2 separate regions of the Homo sapiens genome follow, and region 1 is linked to region 2. The links come from fine-mapping of genetic effects on gene expression. A gene starts in region 2. The other region holds a variant in brackets. All regions are shown on one strand. Distances are from middle to middle.

Evidence for each region. PIP is the estimated chance that this variant, and not a neighbour inherited with it, causes the effect.
Region 1: its variant is fine-mapped to the expression of SLC41A3 in whole blood (TOPMed, PIP 0.97).

What each region holds. Positions count from the first base shown.
Region 1 is chr3:126,010,581-126,013,491 of GRCh38, reverse strand. It overlaps SLC41A3 (solute carrier family 41 member 3), which reads left to right. Exons shown (of 11, transcript NM_017836.4): 9 at 743-877. Among named protein-coding and RNA genes, the nearest start is that of ROPN1B, 43 kb to the right of the region's middle. The variant C/AC (reference allele first, on the strand shown) is at 1,589.
Region 2 is chr3:126,082,685-126,085,595 of GRCh38, reverse strand. SLC41A3 (solute carrier family 41 member 3) reads left to right here and starts at 1,472. Exons shown (of 11, transcript NM_017836.4): 1 at 1,472-1,503. ALDH1L1-AS1 (ALDH1L1 antisense RNA 1) reads right to left here and starts at 1,381. Exons shown (of 8, transcript NR_190231.1): 1 at 1,144-1,381. RefSeq lists silencers at 1,125-1,674, 1,715-1,824.

The DNA.
Region 1 (2,911 bases), 72 kb after region 2:
TCCTGGGTTCAAGTGATTCTCCTGCCTCAGCCTCCTGAGTAGCTGGGATTACAGGTGTGCACCACCATGCCCAGCTAATTTTTTTTGTATTTTTAGTAGAGACAGAGTTTCACCATGTTGGTCAGGCTGGTCTCGAACTCCAGACCTCAAATGATCCACCCACCTCAGCCTCCAAAAGTGCTAGGATTACAGGCATGAGCCACCATGCCTGGCCCCCTCTCATTCTTATCCACTGTCTTCATTCCTCCTCTCTCCTTCCCACCTTGAGTGAAAAAAAAAAAATCACTTTCATTTTCTCAGATATTCCAGGCTGTAGTCTGTTTCCTGTCAATGCCTGTGGCCTTGAGGTCTGACTTATCCAGACTGCCTTATCACACTATTCTCAGACCTTTCTATCCACTCTCCCCTCATCCTTACTTTGTCCCTGGATCCCCTCCCTCCCATCCTCGCTCCAGCCAACAAATACTTATTGAGAACCTACTTTACAGCCGCACTCCCCTCACCTTAAGAGATGCCAGCAGTCAAGGTGATGCAGTTACTCCCTGGATACCTCACTCACAAGCTCTGGGCCACCCTGACTTGCTGCCAAACAAGATCTGTGGTCAAGTGGGAGGAAAGGAAAAGATAATGAAATACTGAATTAACCAAAGAAGACTTCCTGGAGGAAGGGAACTTAAAATAAGGGATACAACTTAGAGACTGGCGTAAAGAAAGGGAAAACAGATTCCTTTTCTCCTCGTAGGTGTTGGTGGCAATCTGGTGGCCATTCAGACCAGCCGAATCTCAACCTACCTGCACATGTGGAGTGCACCTGGCGTCCTGCCCCTCCAGATGAAGAAATTCTGGCCCAACCCGTGTTCTACTTTCTGCACGTCAGGTGGGTGTCATGTCTTTCAGAGGCCATGATAGCCATTTCTTTAAACAAGAAAACATCGGTGTCATTGGAATCTGGTGTTTGTAGCAATGGATGCCTGAAGCCAGGGCTGATCTCGGCACACATCACCTTCAGGGCCCCAGAAATGAGACTCCCCGGCCCTGCCTTTCCTTCATTCCTTCATTCAATTATTTATTGAATGTCCACTGGGCACTAGGTGTTAGGTTAGTGGTGAAACAGGGAGAGCTGATTTCTTGCCCTTGAAGTACACAGTATAGAAGGGCAGATAAACACAAGTGGGCTCGTAATTAAAAATTATGTTGGGTACCGAGCAGCAAAAGTGCAGAGTGCAGTGAAAAAGAATTAGAGGAAATACACTTGGGATAAGGAAGCTCCTCCCTGAGGACAAGTGGGTGTTGTTGGGAGGAGGAGGGCAAGAGAAGAAGGGGCTTTCAGGGCAGTGGGTGCAGTCTAGCAAAGGCCCAGAGGCAGGAAGGAGTGTGGCAAGTCTGAAGAACTGAAAGGCCAATGTGGCCTGAGCTGAATGGACAGGAGGGGATGAAGGAGGCTGAGGCCAGAGAGGCCGGAAGGAGGTGATCCGACAGAGCCTTGGAGTTGAGGAAGGAACCTGGATTCTACTCAGAACCACTGGAAGCTTTTGGAGATGTTGTGTCTTTTTGTTGGCTTTGAAAAATCAGATCTTCTTTCCTGTTA[C/AC]ATTGTTTTGGATTTCCTTTCTAAGAACTACCTTTAGCCTTCTTTTGGGTTGGCTGTTGGCACATTTCTGAAGGATATTTTCACTGGTTGTAAAATTCGGTGTCAATAGTTGTTTTCAAACACTTGAAAAATGTGCCACTTCCTTCTGATTCCATGACTTATGATGAGAAATCTGCCATTTCAATTTATTTTGCTGTATAGGTATGGTGCCATTTCTCTCTTGCATATTTCAAGACCTTGTCTTTAGTTTCTAGGAGTTGGATTATGATATGTATTGGTATGGACTTTTTGGGGTTTATCCTATTTGGGGTTTGTTAGGCTCCTTGAACACATGGATTTATATCTTTTGTCAAATCGGAAAATTTAAGCCATCACTTTTTCAGCTGCACTCTCCTTCTTTTTGATATTCTAATGACATGAATGTTAGATCCTCTGTTACAGCCCCACAAGTCCCTGAGACTCTGTTTGGTTTTTGCAAAGTCTATTACTCTCCTTGTTTAGATTGGCTCATTTCTATCACTTTTTTCTCCAAGTTGACTGATCTTTTTTCCCCTGCCCTCTCCATTCTGCTATTGAGCCTATTCACTGAGTTGTCTGGGACTTTTGGGGGTATTGTATGTGTTTAGTTTTAACATTTCCATTTGGTTCTTCTTTCTTTCTATCTTCTTTTTCTTTTCTGAGACTTTCTATTTCTTTGCTTATACTTTCTATTTTTTTGTTTGTTTCAGGTGGGTTTGTGATTGCATGATGAAGGATTGTTGTAGTGGCTTCATTAGAACGGCTTTCAGGTGATGCTGACGTCTGTGTCGTCTCACTCTGCTGTCTGTTGGTTGTCTTTTCTCATCCAGGTTGAGATTTTTCTTGCTCTTGGTAAGATGAGTGATTTTCATTTGAATCCAGACATTTTGGGTATTATGGACAAGACTTTGGATCATGTTTGAATCTCTACTTAGCTGGCTTCCTTTGACACTGCACCACTGGGGAGAAGGGATGGACTGCTGCCCAGGTGGGGATGGAAGACTGGGTTCACCATTCAGCCTCTATTGCTATCCTGGGAGAAGAGGAGCACCTTGTTATTGCTGGGCACAGTGCAATCTAGGTTCCTCACTAGGCCTCCTCTGAGACCACCTTGGCTGGGACAGGGAAAGATGCCTTGTTGTTGCTCCCCACATGGCTTCACTGACAAGGTGGGGGCCCCATTAGCACTGGGTAGAGATGAAAGTTCTGAATCTCACCCTGCCAGCCACAGGAGATGATGGTGGTCCCACCAGGCCTTTCCTGATGAGGTCGGGGCTGCAGTTTTTCCTGTGGTGTTTGTTGGAA
Region 2 (2,911 bases):
AAACAACAACTTCCTAGGAGAAAAACCAGCTCACACTAAACGAAGGACTGTCAACCAAAGGGCGATCTGGGGCTCAGGAGAACTTAACCAGTTCCATCGGGGGAGAAGCTAGAAGTCTGGGAGGCTTCAATGGGCCCCACTGGTATCTTCGCTCCGAGTTCAGGCAACTCCTTTGGGGTCCTGAGTCTTCTCTGAGGCCCCACGCTGGGTGCCAAATTATTGTGGAAGAGTCAAACTCTGTAAAATATTTGAAGAGATTTATTGTGAGCCAAATATGAGTGACCACAGCCAGTGACACAGCCTTCAGGAGGTCTTGAGAACATGTGCCCAAGGAGGTCGGGGTGCAGCTTGGTTTAATACATTCTGAGGAGGCATGAGACTTCAAGTTAAGTTCATTTAAGAAATAAATTTGTTTGATCCAGAAAGGCAGGAAAACTCAAAGAGGGGGAGGGTGGTTCTAGGGTATAGGTCAACTTAAACATTTTCTGGTTGACAATTGGTTGAGTTTGTCCAAAGACCTGGGATTAAAGAAAGGAATGTCTGGGTTAAGAGGTTGTGGAGACCAATGTGTTTTATCACGCAGATGAAGTATTCGGATAGGGTAGCAGGCTTCAGAGAGAAGAGGCTGTAAAATGTTTCTTATCAGACTTAAAGTCTGTGTTGATGTTAATGCAGGAGAGGGATAATGAGGCATGTTCGGCCTCCACTTCCCCTTATGGCCTGAACCAGTTTTTCAGGTTAAATTCTAAAAGTCCTGGCTGAGGAAGAAGTCCATTCGGATGATTTGGTGGTTGGGAACGGGGAGGTGCCTTATCATTTATTTTTTGGTTTAAAATATAATGATATATTTTACCAAGTCTTGTGAACCATCAGGCCTCCCTCAGGCCCGGACTGGGAATTGCCAATTTCGTTAGGTGTGACCGTAATACTATGAGAATGTTTAAAAAAATAGGCCTTACTGATTAAACATACTCGAGTATTTAAAGGAGAATTTATCCACTGGGATGCTTTAAAATTACTCTGGGAAAAAAGGGAAAACGAAAGGCATGTGTGGGGTGAAGCACAGACTTGTCGTTGTTGTTTTTAAAGCAAAAGGCGGGTCCCAAGGGAAGTTGGCTGTCGGTGGGTTCCCGTTCTCCGTACCTTTCTACCTTGACAGCTCCATAATAAAACCTGCAGCCGCATAGGCGCCTCTCCCGTAGCGCTCCCGCGGGGGCGCCAGTGGGGCCCCAGCTGCGAGGAGGGCCCGGGCTCGCGAGACTCGGTCCCCCACTTCCGTCCCCGCGATCCCCGGCTCCCAGCCCCCCGGGCCCCCGGCGGGGCTCTGCGCTGCCGGAGCTTGGGCGTCTGCTGCTGTCCCGGAGCGCCAAGTCGTCCGAGGTCCGGCCGCCCGGCCGGGGCGGGGCCAGGGAGGCCCGGCCTTCCCGCTTCCTGCCTGAGCCGCAGGCCCGCCCCTGCGTCCTCCGCCCGCCTCTTTCCCGCCGCCGCCTGGGAGGGGACCCGGTAAGCGCGGCCCTGTTCCGGGCGGGGTTGGGGCGGAAGGTGGGGTCAGCTGGGGCCCAAGGGGGGTCGGGGAGGCGCGCGGGAGAGGGCGCCCGGGAGTGGGTGCGCGGGAGGCGAGTGAGCCGGGCGCCGGGCCCTGGGGGCTCGGCGGGAGGGGGAGTCAGGTGGGGACCGGGATTTGGGGGACTCGGTGGGGGAAAGGCGCGCGGGAGATGAGGTAAACACGAGGGGTCGGAGGGGCGGCCTGGGGCGGGGTGGGGCCATGCCTGGGGTAGGCCACGCCTCGGGGAGGCCGGGAGAGAACCCAGGCGCTGGGGGTCGCGGGGGAGCCGGCCGGTCCTACCCTTAGGTGTCTGAGGCCGCTCCCCACACCGCTGCGGTGTGCATTCAGCGGCCCTGTCTCCTCCTTCCTGGCCTGCTCAGGGCACGGCTCCTGGTTGGATGTCACACGCGTGACTCCTGCAGCGCCCGCGCGCAGGGACCCCTCGCTGCCTCAGCCAGACCTCCCGCCAGCCTCTACCACAGGCTCAGCCCACTGTCCTGGGTGGGCTCGGTGCAAACCTCTGGTGAAGAAAACCTCCTGGGGGTGCCCAGCCGGGAGTCTGTCTCAGAGTCCCACACTCTCTCCATCCAGGAGAGCCGGTGGGATAGGTCTCTTTAAAATCCCGTTATTTATTTGTTTATTTTTTCCTCTTTCTTCCAGTTTTTTCCATATGACTTTAGTGATCAAATCCCACTTTTTTTTAGAAGGCTTTTTTTACACCAGTGGTTTTCAAACTGTGGTCCCAGGACCAGCAGCACTGCCTTTCCTGAGATCTGCTAGAAATGCGGGTTCCCCAGCCCCACCCTGACCTTCTAAATCCTAAACCTTGGGGGTGGGTCCCCATACTTGTCTTTAGCAGGTCCTCCTCGTGGTTCTGACCATTGATCTGAAACCTTAGGGCTTTGAGGAGTCTGAACTGGGGTTGAGGATGGGCCAGGTGCCCTGTGATGATAATGCATGACTCCATTTAATCTTCACAGCCCTACACAGTAGGTAGTATTACCCCATTTCACAGATTAGGCAACAGAGGTACAGAAAGTTTAATTTTTCCAAGGTCACAGACCTAGAAAGGGGAGGAGCTGGGATTCCAACCTTGGGTTCCGGCTCCAGAACATTCCCACTGAGGCGAGGTCCCCTGTGAAGGTGGGGAGGGGTGAAGCCCAGAGGTCCTGGCGGCCTCCCTGCCAGGCAGAAACCATTAGTTCCAGAATCACGACCAGCCAGGTGCGTGGTCAGCAGTGGCCCTGCCTGCCTGCCTTTGGGCGAGCCCTGGTCTGTGTGAGCTGCTGGGTCCAGGTCCCCGGGCAGGATGTGTTCGCACTGGGGTGCTGACGGGGCGCCTAGAGGCCTGGGTCCAAGGCCAAC